2 separate regions of the Homo sapiens genome follow, and region 2 is linked to region 1. The links come from fine-mapping of genetic effects on plasma protein levels. A gene starts in region 1. The other region holds a variant in brackets. All regions are shown on one strand. Distances are between the middles of the regions.

Evidence for each region. A credible set is the group of variants that fine-mapping cannot tell apart. PIP is the posterior inclusion probability: the model's chance that the variant is causal. Protein levels are from antibody-based Olink assays in UK Biobank. Linkage for the fine-mapping came from a reference panel and not from the study's own genotypes, which makes the PIPs less certain.
Region 2: its variant is the best candidate, but not a certain one, in a credible set for the plasma level of the CLGN protein (UK Biobank, PIP 0.68).

The regions. Positions count from the first base shown.
Region 1 is chr4:140,424,502-140,434,063 of GRCh38, reverse strand. CLGN (calmegin) reads left to right here and starts at 6,416. Exons shown (of 15, transcript NM_004362.3): 1 at 6,416-6,527. RefSeq lists an enhancer at 7,210-7,259.
Region 2 is chr4:140,368,516-140,378,235 of GRCh38, reverse strand. It overlaps SCOC (short coiled-coil protein), which reads right to left and starts at 4,590. Exons shown (of 4, transcript NM_001153484.2): 1 at 4,519-4,590. It overlaps SCOC-AS1 (SCOC antisense RNA 1), which reads left to right and starts at 4,844. Exons shown (of 5, transcript NR_033939.1): 1 at 4,844-4,973; 2 at 8,886-8,926. RefSeq lists a silencer at 4,301-4,500 and enhancers at 4,661-4,710, 4,406-4,907. The variant A/G (reference allele first, on the strand shown) is at 5,351.

The DNA.
Region 1 (9,562 bases):
TTCCTCCTCTGATGCAGAAATTGATCCATTACTATTTAAATATTTTTTTCAGTGTTACAACAGTGTTTCAATGTACATTCTTCTGGGTGCCTACTTGAGCATAGAGTCTTTTTCCTAGTTTAAATAATCAGTAGTGGTACTGCTGACTCAAAAGGTATGAATATTTTTTATTTTAACAGATACTGCCAAATTGCCACCAGAAATAGCCATATCAACATATATCCCCAAGAGTAGTGTTTGAAAGCAGCAGTTTTCCCAAGTCTTGCCCTTTGCTATTAGTGAGCTTTGAAATTGTTGCCAGTCTAGTGAAAGCAGTATTTTGTTATAGTCTTAGTTTGCCTTTCTCAAATTACAAGTAGGGTTTAAATTTTCTCACATATTTATATCTTTCCTGATTTTTTATTTGAGATGGAGTCTCGCTGTGTCGCCCAGGCTAGAGTGCAGTGGCACAATCTCGGCTCACCGCAAGCTCCGCATCCCAGGTTCACGCCATTCTCCTGCCTCAGCCTCCCGAGTAGCTGGGACTACAGGCGCCCGCCACCATGCCCAGCTAATTTTTTTTTCTATTTTTAGTAGAGATGGAGTTTCACCATGTTAGCCAAGATGGTCTCGATCTCCTGATCTCGTGATCTGCCCGCCTCGGCCTCCCAATCCTGATTTTTTTAATGAGCTATTTGTCTTCTTCTTCTTCATTTAAATATGAGGTTCTTAAAACACATACAGGAACCTAATTAAACTCCTAAACTAAATATTAATAGTTTGTCATAGGCTAAAATTACTTTTCTCAGAAAGTCTTTTGTCTTAAACTTATTTTGTATTGTCTTTTGACATACAAAATTTTCAACTTTGAGATAGCCAAATATATTAATAATTTCTTTTATGACTTTTTCACTTTTCGTATTGTTTAAAACAACCTACCTACCCACATCAAGCATATAGTCCCATATATTATATTATAAAACTTCTATAATTTTTAAAGTTTAGGTCTCTATTTCCATTAAAATAGTGTGTGTGTGTGTGTGTGTGTGTGTGTGTAATGGTAGAAAATCCAACTCTAAATCTTTCCACCCCAAATGTAGAGCCAGATGGCCCCACTGATTTATATATTTATTAGTCCATTTTCATGCTGCTGATAAAGACATACCTAAGACTGGGCAATTTACAATAGAAAGAGGTTTAATGGACTTACAGTTCCACATCGCTGGAGAGATCTCAAAATCATGGCAGAAGGTTAAAGTCACACCTCACATGGTGGCAGACAAGAGAAGAGAGCTTGTGCAGGAAAATTCCTGTTTTTTTTAAACCATCAGATCTCATGAGAGTTATTCACTATCACAAGAACAGCATGGGAAAGACCCACCCCCATGATTCAATTATCTCCCACCAGGTTCCTCCCATGAGACTTGGGAACTGTGGGAGTTACAATTCAAGATGAGATTTAGGTGGGGACACAGCCAAACCATATCATTCTGCCCTGTCCCCTCCAAAATCTGATGTCCTCACATTTCAAAACCAATCATCCCTTTCCAATAGTCCCTCAAAGTCTTAACTCATTTCAACATTAACTCAAAAGTCTGCAGTCCAAAGTCTCATCTGAGACAAGGCAAGTCCCTTCCACCTATGAGCCTGTAAAATCAAAAGCAAGTTAGTTACTTCCTAGATACAATGGGAGTACAGGCATTGGGTAAATACAGCCACTACAAATGGGAGAAATTGGCCAAAACAAAGGGGCTACAAGCCCCATGCAAGTCTGAAATCCAGCAGGGCAGTCAAATCTTAAAGCTCTCCTTTGACTCCATGTCTCACATCCAGGTCACGCTGATGCAAGAGGTAGGTTCCCACGGTCTTGGGCAGCTGCACCCCTGTGGCTTTGCAAAGTATAGCCTCTCTCCCAGTTGCTTTCACAGGCTGGTGTTGAGTGTCTGCAGCTTTTCCTGGTGCACAGCGCAAGCTGTCAGTGGATCTACCATTCTGGGGTCTGGAGGATGGTGGCCCTCTTCTGACAGTTCCACTAGGTGGTGCCCCACAAGGACTCTGTGTGGGGGGCTCTGACCCCACATTTCCCTTCAGCACTGCCCTAGCAGAGCTTCTCCATGAGACCCCCGCCCCTGCAGCAAACTTCCACCTGGGCATCCAGGCGTTTCCATACATCCTATGAAATCTAGGTAGAGGTTCCTAAACCTTAATTCTCAACTTCTGGGTACCCACAGGCTCACCACCTGGAAGCTGCCAAGGCTTGGGGCTTCCACCCTCTGAAGCAGCAGCCTGAGCTGTACGTTGACCCCTTTTAGCCATGGCTGGAGCAGCTGGAACACAGAGTACCAAGTCCCTAGGCTGCACAGAGCAGAGGAGCCCTGGGCCCAGCCCACAAAACTGTCTTTTCCTCCTAGGTCTCTGGACCTGTGATGAGAGTGGCTGACATGAAGACCTCTGACATGCCGTGGAGACATTTTCCCATTGTCGTGTGGATTAACATTTGGCTTCTTGTTACTTATGAAAATTTCTGCAGTGGAGATTTTCATTTCTATCACATTGTCAGGCTGCAAATTTTCAAACCTTTTATTTTCTGTTTCCCTTTTAAAACGGAGTGCCTCTAATAGCACCCAAGTCACCTCTTGAGTGCTTTGCTGCTTAGAAATTTTTTACACCATATATCCTAAATCATCTCCCTCAAGTTCAAAGTTCCACAAATATCTAAGACGGGGCAAAATGCAGCCAGTCTCTTTTTTTATATATGCTGTGTGGTATGGATTGAAAAATGTACTTATTACATGTGAATATTCAATTGTACCACCACAATTTGTTGAAAAGACTAGGCTTTCTCTACCAACTGCATGTGTACCTATGTTGAAAACCAGTTCCCCACACTGTCTTATTCTGTTTTGTGTTGCTATAACAGAACACCTGGGAATGGGTAATTTATAAAGAAAAGAGATTTATTTAACTCACAGTCTGGCTAGCTGGGAAGTTCAAGGACATGGCTCTGGCTTGTGGTGAGGCTTTTGTGCTAGGCCAAAAGATGGCAGAGAAGGTCAAAGGGGAAGCAGACGCATGCAAAGAGGGAAAACCTGAGGGGCACCCAGCTTTATAACAACCCATTCTCATGGGAATGAATCCAGTCTCGTCAGAGCAAGAACTCACTCACTACTGCAATGGCATCAAGCCACCTACGAGGACAGGACCTTCATGACCCAAATACCTCCCATTAGGCCCCACTTTCCAGCACTGCCACACTGGGGACCAAATTTCAACATGAGTTTTGGTTGGGACAAACCAACCATATCCAGGCCATAATACATACACATGTAAGTCTATATAGAATCTATTCTGTTCCATTGATTTGTTTGCCTTGATACTAATACTCTTTGATAACTCTTTGATAACTATAGCTGTATATCATTCTATAAATCCTAAAGTCGGGTAGTGTTTCTGAGGGGGGTTATCTTGAGACACAAGAAAAAAACTCAGCATGGGCTCATTCTGCCAACTATATAGTTTAACCAGACGAATTCTGGGAAAAACAATGATGACTATTGTCATTACTATTATTTACTATTGTTTGATATTTTTGTTAAAGTAATAAGGAAAAAAACCTCAGAAAATAAGTATAAATATAAGAAAGAAAAGATCATTTTCTGCCATAGACATAATTATACATCTTGAAAATAAAAGTCAACCCACTGGAAATACTTGTGGAATACTTTGTTTCCTTTTCTCTATTTTCTGCACCATTAAAAAGCACATTCCTAAACATATGAAAATATACAAACATTTTTAAAGTATTATTTGAATTATCTAGGTTCTGAGTCCACTCATTGTATTTGAGTTAAAACTTCATTCTGCATAGCTCTTTAATCCTGATAATCGAGGCATTTCCTATATTCTGCATTTTTCAAGTGGCAAGGTGTTGTGGAAAGGGCACAGGCTTTGAATCCTCACTCTGCATCTTAAGATCTGTGTGAATAAGTTATGTAACTGATCTGGGTCTATTTCCTCATAAGTAAAATAAGGATGATACCTGTGGGTCAATTGCATATAGCAACTTGCACATAGTAGAACATTAATAAAACACAGCTCTGATTTTGATTACAAAACAGGCTTCCAACAGGACATCACTCTGTTCCATCAAGGAGCATGAACCTTTCTGCTTTTTTTTTTTTTTTTTTTTTTTTTTTTTTTTGACACAATGTCTCACTCTGCCATCCAAGCTGGAGTGCAGTGGCACTATCTGGGCTCACTGCAACCTCTGCCTCCTGGGCTCATCCCACCTCAGCTTCCTCCCACCTCAGCTTCCCAGGTAGCTAGGACTACAGGCATGCACCACCATGCCCAGTTAAATTTTTTGTATTTTTTTGTAGAGATGGGGTTTCATCATGTTTCCCAGGCTGGTCTCAGGCAGCTCGGCTCAAGTGATCTACCTGCCTCAGCCTCTCAAAGAGCTGGGATTACATGCATGAGCCACCATGCCAGGTCACCTTTCCTGCTTTTTATGTTTTTCTAGATTTCTGATTACTCTAGTCCCTCCAATCTTGATTACATTGCCTTGGTCTCTTCCCAAATCTCTCTTCAACTTTGATGTGTCAGAACACTTCACGACTCTACCATTCAGCATTACATTCTGGGACTCCTCCGCTTGTATTATTAAACACTACATCACTCTCAAAAGCCATACCCCTTGTCTTATTTGCAGATTATTCTTTCTCCTCTGACATTATCACATTGTATTATTCTGATGAAAAGTTGCCTATTAAACAAATTATAAATATTATATTCAATCATCCTTTCAATAAGTGGCAAATAATTTTGGAGATATGTTAAGGCCTTAAATTTCAAGGTTAGAGATTAGATTTCATGCTGTGGGTAATGAAGGGTCATTGGAAACTATTGAATGAGCTGAGGATTAAACTACGAAGTGTAGGTGGGAGGCTCTGAAGGGGGGCAACTAGTTAGGTAACTCTGAACAACAGTTTCTAAAGTAGTGAGAATCTAAACTAGAGAAATGGCACAGGGACTGGAGGGGGTGAGGACCTCTTTTAGATGATTTTATGGAGTTAGAGTTTAATTTATGGAGGCAGTGAATGTAGCAGCCAAAGAGTAAAAAAATGTTCTCAAGGTTTTGAGTACTATGTGACCAAGAAGATACTACTAAATCTTGCAAAAATTCACTATTCTTACATTTTTAGTTTTCAGCTTCCTCACTGCAAACTTTGAATGGATCCTTTAAAAAATCCCTCTCTAGCAGTTCAAGTGTATTTGTTATGGGCCACAGAAGTATGTTGAATAATAGAAGTCAGAAGGACGGAAGAAAGAAATAAAGGGTATAATATTGTTACAAAGTATCTCAAACAAAATGTCTTTTTAACCAGTAAATTTTAACACTATCCAAACACTCTCCCAGAGATGACAAAGTCAAAAGTTTAGAAATGCTGGTCTTAATTAGTGAAGCAATGTGAAAAAACTCAGTGATCTTGACCCCTAGCCAATAATGATACGTTGTGCACGGAATGCCACCAAACCCTTAAGATTGAAACTCTTCAACAAGGGTCTTAGACTCACAAGTCAATTAAATGTTGTTAATTAATCTTCCAATAAAATTAAATTGTTATACCAAATTCAAAGTCAAGATTTACTATAAAATATTAAGTAGTAAAATTAATATTGATCCAATATATAAAAGGCAAAGCAGCTTGTGATTGCATAATCATAGCATAAACTACGTTTATGCTAAGATTTATTTCAATGTGTTTGAAACTACAGGCTCTGAGAGAGACAGGCCTGATTTACATCCCGTTTCCACTGTTTACATGTTGTGTAACTTCGAGCAAGTTGCCATCAGTTTCATCACCTGGGTTGCCACGAAGGTTAAACAATGAATGTAAGCCCCTTAGAGCACAATGAACACAATAAATGTTAGCAGCTCTTATTAATAGTGTTGTTCGAGAGAAAAAGAACATATTGTTTTATATACAATGTATTTATTAACACTTAACGCATCTGTATTTGTCATATACACACACCAGACAGGAAAGCTCCTTATTAATCACCATGACTGCAGATCTGTTAACATCTAGAACTCTGGAGAAAACCTAGAGCCCTAATCTTGCTGCACTTATTACTGGACGTTGTTCATAAATATGATTTACATAAAATTCAGGACCCAATCATTGCGCAACAGGAGGTAGCACGGTCTGCAGAGAGGGCGGGAGCTCAGAGGAGGAAAAGTCTTCGGACTTGCAGGGGGAATTCCTCCTGGGCTAACCCGGGAGCGGGGTCCAGGCCACAACCGGCCGGCGGCGGCACAGGCTCCATGTGCGGCTCCCCCTGGAGGCGGTTGAGCCCCTCGGAGCAGGAGCGCGTAGCACACACCTCGGGCCGCCACCGCCTCCCGCCCGCCACCGCACGCGCACGCGCGGTTAGTAGTCGCTGCTGCGCGGCCGCCGGCGGGACTGGTCTGAAGAGACGCGGGGACCAAGTGGCAACGACTTGGACATCTGAGCTGTCACTGCCGAAAACAGGCCGCAAGAGAGGTGCGTGAGCAGCAGGCCGCGTTCCCGCTGTCCCGCTGCCCTTTGCGCGCAGATTGGGGTGAGGAAGCGGAGTCGTTGCTGCTTCCCCCAGGCACCCCGTTACTTTGCCGCCAGAGGGCTGAACCGGTCGGGGCCAAGTGAGGGTGGATGTTGAGTCTGGCGATGGGGCTGCAGCGAGCTAGGGTCTTGACTGGGCTCTGGCGGCCCCGTGGGTGGACGCAGGAGGTGGTGCCACCTGGGACCCTTTGTGTCTTCAGCACCGCCGCATCCACCTGCTGCGCCCGGGCTGGGGCGGACGAGCACGGGGACAGCTAGGTGCCTAGCCCGGCCGGCCTCCCCTGCGGGCTTGAGGAGCCACCGGGAGCCGAGGCCGTTATTCCAGCGGTTGCCATTGCAGCCCCGTTCCACGCTTGAGCCCGGGGCGCTCTCCCAATGGTTGTAGAGGGGGCCCGGGGCGCGTCTGGGCGCTGCTCACTCTGCTGACTGCTCCTTACAGAAACCCAAACGAGATCAAAATAGGCTCGGCTGTCTCAGTCTCCACCTATGTGGAAGCGAAGGGACCCCACTTCACGGCGGTGGGGCCAGGGACTGTTGGCCGCTCCCTCGATACCCGCGCAGAGCCCATTGTGCGCCGCCGGGGGGCGGGCGAAAGGGCTGGGTTGAATCCAGAGAGGCCCTAATTACTAGACTCATTATCGCCCCAGGCCTGTTTACCATCAATCAGACACTTTCGCTGATTTTATTTATAGCATCTGCCCAAGCAACAAAGAGGAGGTGTTTGCTTGGGAGTTAAAAGCAAATGGCAACCAAAGCTCAGGACTGGGAGAGAAAAGGTAAATAACGTGGCCACAGGAAGAAGTCTCAAATTAGAAAAGAGTTCATTAACGTATAAACTTTTTGTTGCTTAAAAGCAGGCAAAATCCCGATCTCATCTGATGATTTTGCTTGTTTTACAAATGTCGACATCACTCGAGGTAGCCCTCCTTTGGGTCATTGTAAGTTTGACCTGTTTTCAGTTTGGAGTTTTGCCTTCACGTCTTATTGGTTTGATCTTCCAGTAACATTTAGATCTCATCTCCAAATCCTCAGAACAAGATATTCTGTACTCTCTGTCTTAGCTAGTTGATAAGGTTAATTATTGTGTGTAAATGATGTAAGTATGTTGATGCATTTGTCTAGAAATTGAAGTGTTGTAAGTTAGCTGTAGTACTTTTTAAGTACCTAATAAATACTGGTGTTTTTAAATAGAAAACTAGAATTATGAACTTTAAAGAATCTTTGGATTGTCTAGTTCACGTCACAAATGAGAAAACAGGCCCACAGCAGTTTTTATCACTTGTCTTTTTAATAATAAAACTAGAAACTTGGTGCGATTGTGCCATGTTGGGTGTACTTTTTATTATATCATTCTACATTGCATTCCTGAAGCCACATGACAACTAAAACTTTAAGTAATAGGTGATTGTCAAACACCACTTCTGGAATATACCAGTGTTGGTCGGATCCTCAGTCAGCCATTAAAACTGAATAACAGCAGAAAGGCATCGCAGTTATAAGAAATAGCATGTACAAAAAGTGTGTTAAATAGGTGTGTTGAGAGTGAAAGAAGGCCCGGCGCGGTGGCTCACGCTTGTAATCCCAGCACTTTGGGAGGCCGAGGCGGGCGGATCACCTGAGGTTAGGAGTTGGAGACCAGCCTGACCAATATGGTGAAACCCCGTCTCTACTAAAAATACAAAAATTAGCCGGGCATAGTGGCGCGCGCCTATAATCCCAGCTACTCGGGAGGCTGAGACAGGAGAATCGCTTGAACCAAGGAGGCAGAGGTTGCAGTGAGCCGAGATTGTGCCACTGCACTCCAGCCTGGGTGACAGAGCAAGACTCCATCTCAAAAAAAAAAAAAAAAAAAAAAAAGGAATTACAAAAATGTGTCACAGAAACATAAAGTGACTATAGTGTTGGAAAAATGGCAGCTGTAGACTTGTTCAATGCAGTGTTGCCAGAAACCTTCAATTTGTGAAAAATGCAATAAATCAACGTGCAGTAAAATGAGGTATGCCTGTATGTACACACACACACACACACACACACACACACACACACACACCCTATTGATTCTGCTTCTCTGATGAACTCTGACTAATAAAATGACTCTCCTCCAAGTAATGATTCAGGGATTCTGCAACTTCCTACCTTGGAATTTTGCCGTTTTCAACCATGACCTTCAAAATTGCTTGCATCAAACCAGAAGGGGAAAGATCATAAAGAATTATAATTCATAATTATAGGAAGTTTTTATGGGCAAGGGCTGACAATGGCATACAGGTCTTCTATTTACATTCTGTTGGCTGGAACCAGGTAATGGTCACATCTAGTGCCAAGGAAATTACCCTTGTGATCAGCCAGCAACTTCTCCCACACTATACAACACATATTGCATATCCTGTGATTGTCTTTTCTTTGTGTGCCTTACTTACCTTTGATGTGACAGTGAGCATTACTTCAATACCAGTACATGAGCTGCACTTTATAATTTGTAATTTGGGGGTGGTAGTGGAGATCCAGTAGGGTTTTTAGGAGATATTGGTGTAATTATTTAAAGTAGACCAGACTACTTGATCTAGATTTCAAAGATTGGGAAGAATGGTATCTCATTCATGGATAAAGTTACTTGTGCTTCAATTTGTTATTGAACTACCACAGAAGCAGTGCAGAGAACATACATGAGATCAAAGATACGTGTTGGTGCAGAAGGATGTAGTTCTTCAGTGCCTCCCTTCTTATGAAGGCACAACTGATATTTAGTGATCTCAGCAAGCCTCATGGAGTGAGGAATACATAAGAAGCTTGGAACCCTGGGCATGCTACCTTTTAATTTATAAGGAGGGAAGAGGGTGACATTAGCACTAAATGTTCTACCCTATACCATATAAACAAATTCTTGCTGTACTAAAATTATATAACTTAAACAACCATACAGATCAATAAAGAAATAGATAACACCACAAGCCAACTAAACATAATAAACATATGGA
Region 2 (9,720 bases), 56 kb after region 1:
AAATTCAAAAGATAAATACTAGACCATCTAAAATATTAATATGGAATAAATGAAAAAATGTCCATTCATCAGCTCCTAGTCAGGGTTAAATCAAAACAGACTAATCAGGATGTAAATAAGTAAATAAATACTAACATTTTATTATTACAATGAAGACTTCTAAATATTAGAACAAAAAATTTCTATAAAACATGTTCTGCTCCATTGCTAACAATCATTTCATTCAATATGTTCAAAATATATTAAATAATGTCACCAGATTATTACTGAAAACAGATTTGTTAACCAATCTAATCTACTACATTGAAGCAACCTAGACCTGTCAGTGTTATTCTTTCAACAAGTATTTACTGAATATCTTCTATGCCCAAGGCATTGTTATGCCTCCGTATCTTAAACAGTAGAAAGCAGACCTATTAAATAAGGATATCTACATACTAGAACTAGAATCACAATAGAGATATCAGTGTATTACACATTCTCTCACAGCTGTTAATACAAATCTTGTTGTACTTCAGATACTAACATGAAATTTGAAAATGCCCAGTGTACATCTACATAAATCCTGTTACACTTTAGATACTAACATGAACTTCAAATTAAAATGCCCAGTGTACATATACATAAACTTCAAGTTTATAGTTCAAGTTAGATAGCACTCACTAGTCTAGAAAAAAATATGAAATATCCCTTGTATAACATTATTAAATAATTAACTACAAATGGTATACAATTAATTTAATAATGCTGAATAAACCTACTCCAAGTCTTCTAGCATCTGTCCCCTTATCTAAACCGCATTTAAAGTTGCTCTGCCCGACCTCTTTTTCACATTATTTAATTCTCAGGTTCTCTGCATTTCAGATTACTAAAATTTTTCCAACAATTCTTTTTTTAAAAGTTATTCAGCCTACTGTAGTATTTAAAGACCACACTCCAAAAACTATTCCTCTCCATTGAATCAACATGTCTCTTTAACTATAATTGAAGAGGAAGAGTGTCAGTGAAAACTTGATTTGACATTTCCCTGACAGAGAAGCACACCTGTAACCAGGTACTACAGTCATTCTCTTTTCATACCATTTCAACCACTGATCCAGCTAAAAGAGGTCTGAGTAAGATGAGAGAGGCAACAGCCAAAAGCAAAAGTGATCGTGGGAGTGCTCAGCAAGAGTAAGCTGCAATTTGGCATCTGTCTTTGCTAAATAATAAATTAAAAGTGCTTCAAATTTCTCATATCCAATGATTTTAAGGCTACAGCTAGAACGAATTTTCATGATAGCTAAGAAGAGTTATAAGATATACAAGCCAAAGCAACAGATAATCAGAAAATCGACACAGCTGATTTTGAAGTCAGATATAATACAGTGATAGGGTAGTCTTCTTTTGCTTATGTTTCAGACTAATATTTAAATTAAACCAAAAAGTCTGCAAAAACACAAGTATTCCAAACTCACCAATATAAGAGGTAAAGAAAAAGAAGCCAGTTTCTGAAATTCTGACCACATATAATTCAAACAATAGAAAACCTATGCATGGTTTAGCAACAGTGTGACTTCATCTGAAAAAGTGAAAGAAAATAAAAAGCAGAAAAACAGGGTGGAGAGGGCTTATTAAAGGAAAAATTACTCTTACACTCAAGATTAGGGTAGAGGCAGGAGCACAAAAGTAGTGCCACAAGAACAGTGCTATAAGGGTATACAACGCGAGAGAGCACAATTCACACCACAGTCTACGTAAGATTGCATCCCAAGTGTTGCACAGTGAAAAAACCGCCCACTGTATCTGGCAGCCCTACGCATAAGGGCATTACTCTTTAGTACAGTGGACCACAGCATTACCTGCTGCCTTTCCACGACAAAAGAACAAGAAGCAATTGTATTTTATTGTGATGTGATCAAATAGACCCATCTCAAAATGCTACTATTGTATTAATATATATTCAAAGTCTTTCAGTAGATTTAGGGCAATAAACTGATTTGTTTGACATATGGGATCAAAAGACTTGCTGAGTTCTTTATGTCAAAGTATTTTAGCCATGGATTTTTTCTTTTAAAATAGTATTGATCCCCAAACTGCCCAAAGTCTACATTAACACAGTACTACATCATAACAGATACTTAATACTGAGCTTTTCAAATTTTTCAACTATAAAATCCTTTTTTACCTATAGTTGCTATAACATCAATCTAATTCCATGTCAAATATGCTCTTAAGAGTTCACTTTCAACTCCTTCTGCTCCTATATATAAACGCAAATCTGATGAAAAACGAGAAAATTAAGACCAAGTCTGCTCAAGCGTGGGAACACTGAAATGAATTTGGGGCGCTGAGGCTGCTCTGCCTATCCTAAACCACCTTACCCCAGAAATGGACATGGTTCGCTGAGATTCTTCAGCTCTGATGTATGGCTAGGTCAGACCTTTCAAAGGTTTCTCAAAAAACACAGTAAATTCGGGTATCTAGCCTTGGTTAGTGGAAGGGAATCTAGAATTACTTTTTTGATTATTTAAGTCCAGGAGGCAGAACGCATAGAGAGAATACAAACCAGGAAATGTGGCAAACATTGGGACAAGATTCATTTAATTAAATAATTTTTGCCATGCACACACACCTGTGACCAAAGACGATCATCTTACCAAATATGCCCCTATCTTATTTTACAGTTATCTCTAATAGTGTACAATATCCACAATATCACTCTCCTCAAGAGGCAGCCTGGCACAATGATTAACAATATGGATTCAGATTACCTGGATTCAAATCCTAGCTCTGCAATTTATAAGCTCTGGAACCCTGGGCAAGGTTAACACCTCGGCCTTAAGTTTCCTCATTTGTAAAATGTGGATAATAACCGTACGTATCTCATGGGTTTGTTGTGAGAATGAGTGGATAGATACAATGTGTTGGCAACAGTACCTAGTACATAGTAGGTATTCAATAAATGTCTGCTATCGTCTTCTCTACCTTTTAGCTCTAATTTGGGCAACAGAAAGAATTTAAAGAAAACCATCTGGTCCAGCTGCTTCATTTTACAAAATCAAGGCCAAAGATGACAATGGCTTACTGAAGACCACAGAAGTAGTTAGCAACAGGGCCAAGACTACAACAAATGCCCAGTGTTTTTTCCACCATTCCACCACAACTATTGTCACATCTGAGCCTGCAGATTTTGAGACTTTTTCCTAATACCCGTCCATCTTCAGCCACTCAACTTTTCTGCATCTAAAATTGATTTCACCATCTGTCATACTGGAGAACTACTAAGACTGCTAAAATAATGTCTTCGTGCATTAATGTGCTAAATGCTTTGCATATGTTATTTCATCAAATCAACAGAAGGAAACTGCAATTTACAGATATGGACACTAAATTTCAGAAAGTCTATATATCTTTCAGAAAAGCTGTTTCAGAGGTTTCACAGCCAATGTCTCTACCAAGAATTTGAACCCAGGTCTAACTTCACAGTCCATGCTTTTTCCATTATGCAATGGAAAAAACTTTAATATGGCCCTAATCTTAAGTTTGCCAAACATTTTGCTACCACTGATGTCAAACTCCTCTGGAATCTTTACTAAGCAACTGAAAATAAACTCCATTCCCTTCAAGCTACGGAACTTCAATATAATGTCTGTTCAGATCTGTTCAAGTTCTGCTTTGACTTGTCCTGGTTAAATAAATCCAGTTTCAAATTCCACAAGATCAAGGAACTGTTTGGCCAAATGAGGATTTAAATGGAAGCTATACTCTCAGAGAATGGCTAGCTACACTGATTTTAATCAGGAATAGAGGTACCAGAATACATGGGCACAGCTTTGGGTCCTCGGGCATAGAAAACGTGTTGGCAACCTGGAATGGCATCTGTCCTTATTGTTGCGTAATAGTGTGAGGTTGACACACTGTATAACAGAAGCCCTGCCTTTCAGGAATGTATCCTCTTTCTCCTTTCCAAACCTTTCTTCCCAAAACTTGTTCAGCAGGACTCTGGGGGAGAAGACGATCAGGAAACAAACCCAGGTGCCGCTTTCGCCGCCTGGAAAAATGGTCCAATCCTTATTTTACGGCTCTCTAGGCTCCCTCCCCACCTCAGCCTCCCCTCCCATCTCTCAGGCTCTCGCAGAGCAGCCACGGGAAGGTCCAGGCGTGCCAGGTCCCATTCCACCCAAACGCCCCTCCCGCAGTCCAATTCCAGAGCCGAGAGCTGCAAAGCGGCTCCCGACCCAGGAGCTGCGGGGAGAAAGCTACACGATGTCTGCGTCAGGGACCGCGAGAGGTCCCTCTCCCAAAGAACGCCTGGGCCTGACAACGAAAACAGGAGAAAAAGAGGTCGCGCAAGGGTTCTGCCGGGAGCCAGGCCTCCGCCGCCCACCAAATGCCCAGGCCCGAGACCGCTCCTCCCGGGCCCCCGGTGCGCAGGGCCGCGTCCAGCCCGCCCCGCCCTCCAGGCCCTCGGAGGTACTGAGGATGCAGCTCTAGTCGCCTGGGGCCAGGCCCTCCGCTGCCCGGGACGGCCCTCACCTTCCGCTTGAGGCGCCGGGAGAAGGAGGGATCCGGCCGACACCTCAGGCCGGGACACTTGGACCAACTGACCCCGGCAGCTCCGCCCACTCCGCCCACAGAACGTGCGCCGTGAGAAGAATCCCATCCCGTCCCAGCCGCTCGCCCGCCAATCCTGACTCGAGAATACACGCCTGCGCATTAGCTGCCCGCCTCACCCCAGTCGTCCAATCTCAAAGCACCGGGATCCACCTTTGCCATAACAAAAGGACACTGACATCCAATCAGGATTGAGGTCGCTGTGGGCGGGACCTGGAACAGCGACAGCCAATGACAGTAAAGAAGCGAAGCTAAGCGGCGCTGGTGAAGCGGCTCATCAGGTCTATCAGGAAACCTGAGAATTGGAGTGAGAATCCCAGTGTGGAAAATCAGGAAAGAGGCTGGTATGAGCGACAGAGAAGTCATTCAGGAAAGAGGTTGGTATGAGCGACAGAGAAGTCATTCAAGTTCGAGAAAAGAGCGTTTGCGAACCAAGCAGAGAAAGTCAACGCGACACCGTCGTTCCTTAATTCTAAAAGCAGACTTTTTCATATTTTTCTTATTTCCGAAATCGGAAAGCTTATAGTTGAGCTAGTGGAATGTTCCTCTCCTCACGCCCCTCCTCCGAAACTATTATTAAATCTGTAGTGCGTGGCCATTTAATATTTTAGAATTGAGAAAATACCCTAGTGGTACTGAGGCATAGCACTTGTGCTTACCTTACCCCTGTGGAGCCTCACAGCAACCCACAGAAAGGAACTGAAGCCTGAGCGTGAACACATTTCTTGCTCAAGGTCACATATACGGTATCAAG[A/G]GTGGAGTGTTCTTCGTGACACCGTTCATCGTAATCTAGTACTTGACACAAAGCGGCATCCTGCTTTAATATTCGTTGAGTACAAGGTAGACATCCACAGCAATACATTATTATTTTGGCTTTGGCACAGCCTCCTAAGCTGTAGAGACAAGCCTTATGTCTCCCTGTTTCTTGACTTTTTACTTCTGGCACAGTTTGCTGACACATCGCCTTAATCATTTTAAGAGCTATATAAAAATATCTTCTATTCAGTGTTTTGAGAACTATGCATTTGGCTGCGACTGCAATATTCAGTTTGAGGAAATTTACTAGAATGCAATGTAGGAGCTAAATAAATGAAAAAAAATCCAACATAAATCTAATAGGAGTGCCAAAAAAGAGAGACTAGAGAGAATGGATGCAGGCAGTATTCAAAGAGTAATAACTAAGAATTTTCCAAGATTGTGGAATATTTGAATTTTCAGATTCAAGAAGTACTTATTCTTGAGCAGGATTAATATAAGAATTCTATGCAACGGTGAAATTGCAGGACACCAAAGATCAAGAGAAACTATTAAAAGCAACCTTTTGTTTTTGCTAGAACAGTATTTTTAAATATTTTTAATTGTAGTGAAATATACATAGAATAAAATTTACCATCTTAACCATTTTTAACTTCAGTAGTATAAGATACATTCCACATTGTTCTCCAACCAATCTCCAGAACCAATCTCTCTTTTCATCTTGCCAAACTAAAACTGTATACCTATTAAAGAGCAACTCTCCATTTCCTATTCCCCTCATCCTCTGGCAGTAATCATCTTACTTTGTGTTTATCAGTTTGACTACTCTAGGTACCTCACCTAAGTGGAATAATACAGAATTTGCCCTTTTATGACTGGCTTATTTCATTTAGCATAATGCCTCAGAGTTCATCCATGTTATAGCATATTGCAGAACTTCCTTTTTAAGGCTGAATAGTTCTATATATCATTTATTATGTGTATTATGCCACATTTTGTTTATTCATCTATCAGTGGACGCTTAGGTTGCTTCCTCCTTTTGGCTATTGTGAATAATACTGCTATGGACATGGGTGTGCAAATGTCTCTTTGAGACCCTCTTTTCAGTTCTTTTGGATATACACCCAGAAGTGTGTGTTAATTTGTGCTGAATCATATGGTAATTCTATTTTAAAGCAACTTTTAAAAAAGTGGTATTGACACAAGAATAGACAAAAAGAAAATTAGGAAAAAAAGGGTACCTGGAAGTTGGTATACAATAAAGATGTCTGGTGAGGAATAACTGTTTCTAAGGTTGTGGGGAAAAAACTATTATTCATTACTGTTGGGAGTGTAAATTAGTATAGTAACTGTTCGTGGGATATAGAAAACACAAGTTATGGTGGTTCTAGTTAAATTGGCTATTTATATAAAAATAAGAAATTCAATCCTGATACCACGACAGAAATAAAACTAAATTCCAAATGAAATAATGATCCAAAATGTGACAAACAAAACTCTAAACTTTTAGAAGAAAAGCGTATGTCTGTATATCGCCGTAGGGAAGAAACAGCACGATTCATTAAGGAAAGATGTAAAATATTGATTATTTTAAAATTTGGAAGTTTTACAAACAGAAGAGAAGCCATCTCTAATCAAGTTAAAAAACAAGCCACAGGTTGGCAGAATATAGTAAAACTCTCAAAATATAAAGAATTCAGGCCAGGCGCGGTGGCTCACGGCTGTAATCCCAGCACTTTGGGAGGTCGAGGCGGGTGGATCACGAGGTCAGGAGATTGAGACCATCCTGGCTAACACGGTGAAACCCCGTCTCTACTAAAAATACAAAAAATTAGCTGGGCGTGGTGGCGGGCGCCTGTAGTCCCAGCTACTCGGGAGGCTGAGGCAGGAGAGTGGCATGAACCCAGGAGGCAGAGCTTGCAGTGACATGGTGCCACTGCACTCCAGCCTGGGCGACAGGGTGAGACTCCGTCTCAAAAAAAAAAAAAAGAATTCAGACAAATCAGTAAGAAAAAGACAACTCAAGATAAATATATGCAAATAACGTAAGTAGGCCACTTACAGAAGAGGAAAACTGAACGGCCAGAAAGGTTTTTAAAAAATGTTTACCTTCACTAATAATTAGGTAAAATAACATTAAAACAATTAGATAAAGGGGCATATTCATCAAGAAGACACAAAATCCTAACCACAGTGCTACAAAATAGAAATGAATCAAAAATTAATTGAATTCAAACAGTTCATTACTCCCTGCTCTGCAATTTGTAAAACAACTATACAGATAATTTAAGTATACAGAACTCAGGTCCCAAACTTTTCAGTATATTAGAATCACCTGGGAATCTTTTAATTATTCTAGTGAACAGACCACACCTCAGAATAAATTACAGTCTTAAGGAGTGAGATACAGGCATTAGTATTTTTGAAAGTTACGAAGGTGATTTTGAAAAAAGGCTGGCAAATTTCTGAACTATTGATATAGAAGACCTGAACAATCCTATCAGCCAACTTGACCTAATGGACATTTGTAGAACATTGCACCCAATAACTGAAGAACATGCTTTCTTTTCCAATGCACTTGGAAAATTCATCAAAATAGACTCCACTGTGTATCATCAAACAAATCTCAGCAAATTTAAAATAATTGAAACAGTAAAAATTATTGTCTCTACCCACAAATTAAACTAGAAATCAGTAACAGAAAGATATTTGTAAATCTCCAAATAGTTGGAAATCAAACTATGTACTTCTAAACAAACCATGGGTCACAGGGGAAGTCACACACAAAAAAATTAGAAAGTAATTTTAAACTAAAATGTAAACATAAAAAGGCAGCTCTTGCATGACTCAGCTTTCAGCTTATTTTCAGCTTTCAGACTTGGGAGGCTGAAGCAGGAGAACTGCTTGAACCCAGGAGGTGGAGGTTGTAGTGAGCTGAGATGGCGCCATTGCACTCCAACCTGGACAACAAGAGCGAAACTCCATCTAAAAAAAAAAAAAAAAAAAAAAAAAAAAAAAAAAAAAAATCCCCCTTCTGAATAAGGAAAGGCTATAAGTACAAATAGAAACCACTGAGATTGCATAGAAATATTTGATTATAAGGTGAACATTCATGCGACCTGGACTATGTGAATATTGATAATATAGTTCATCTAAATAAAGGCACAAAATTACATTTTTTTTCCTAGAGAATGGGGGAAGTCCTAATTGAAAACTGTACAAGGCAATATATTATGTGGGGGAAGAAATGATAAATAATGAAATAGAGAACTTCCAATATCTTTTTGATGTTCCAGTCTGGCACACTCTCATTGTGCACATACAAGCTGCTATTTTGTCTTAATTAGAGGGTTCTAAACGTACTGTGGATATTTAAGGTGAAATATGCTAAATGGAAGCATTTTTGATAACTTTCAAGTATAACCAGGTGTGTTGTCTGATGCTTTAAGCTCATTAATTTGCAGAACATGTTCCATCTCATTCCTAAATAAGAACTCACATTTTCTTTTTTACTCATTTTTTTCACTTGAAAGGTTATTGAATTCATTGGAGAATGAATGCTGTTCTGAATTTGGTGAGTAAAGAATATAACCTATTTGTTAAAACTTGATTTCAAAACTAGACGTAATTGTATACTACAGCCTAGTATACTATACTCAACAGTATACCATATAGCTATTTGGTAAATTAAGGTGTTCATGTATACTTTCTCAAGATTATAATTTCTGATAATAACCAAAAGTAAATAAATTTGATGAGTCATTTTCATTTATTTGTTCAATAGGTAGAGGGAATGTAAGAAATTACCAATGTACTTTTAGAGTTTTTTCAAGCAAGAATTCCAAAGGATTTCAAGGTCTTTATGGAATCAAGCTTTGGACTTTATCATAAAAATGGAAATAATTAGGAATGATTCTGTGCAGTCTCGGTGCTGTGAAAGGAGAATAAAAACGTGAGACTCCAGTTCACTCTGCCAGAAGGAAAAAAATAAGCTGAAAGCTGAGTCATGCAAGAAGCTGCCTTTTCTTCTGTTCCTAAGCAGATAGCTACAGATAAAAGGTTAAATATCTCCATAGGTAGCTACTCTATGTTCACCCTATTTCATGTAAAGTGCTGATTTGCTGCACACAAGATGAATGCATCATTCACCATTCCCCTACCTGCGCCTTTTCTCCTGCAACTTAGATTACTATACCCTCGCTCTTACCTCTCCAACCCACTTTTCCCCTTTAAATACTGAAGCTCTCAAAGTCATCCTTGGATAAAGGAACAGACCAGAGACTGTTTCTGTGATTCTGTGTTCTTTTCTTCCAGGTATGTCCTTAACCTTGGCAAAATCAACTTCTAAATTGAATGAGACCTGTCTGA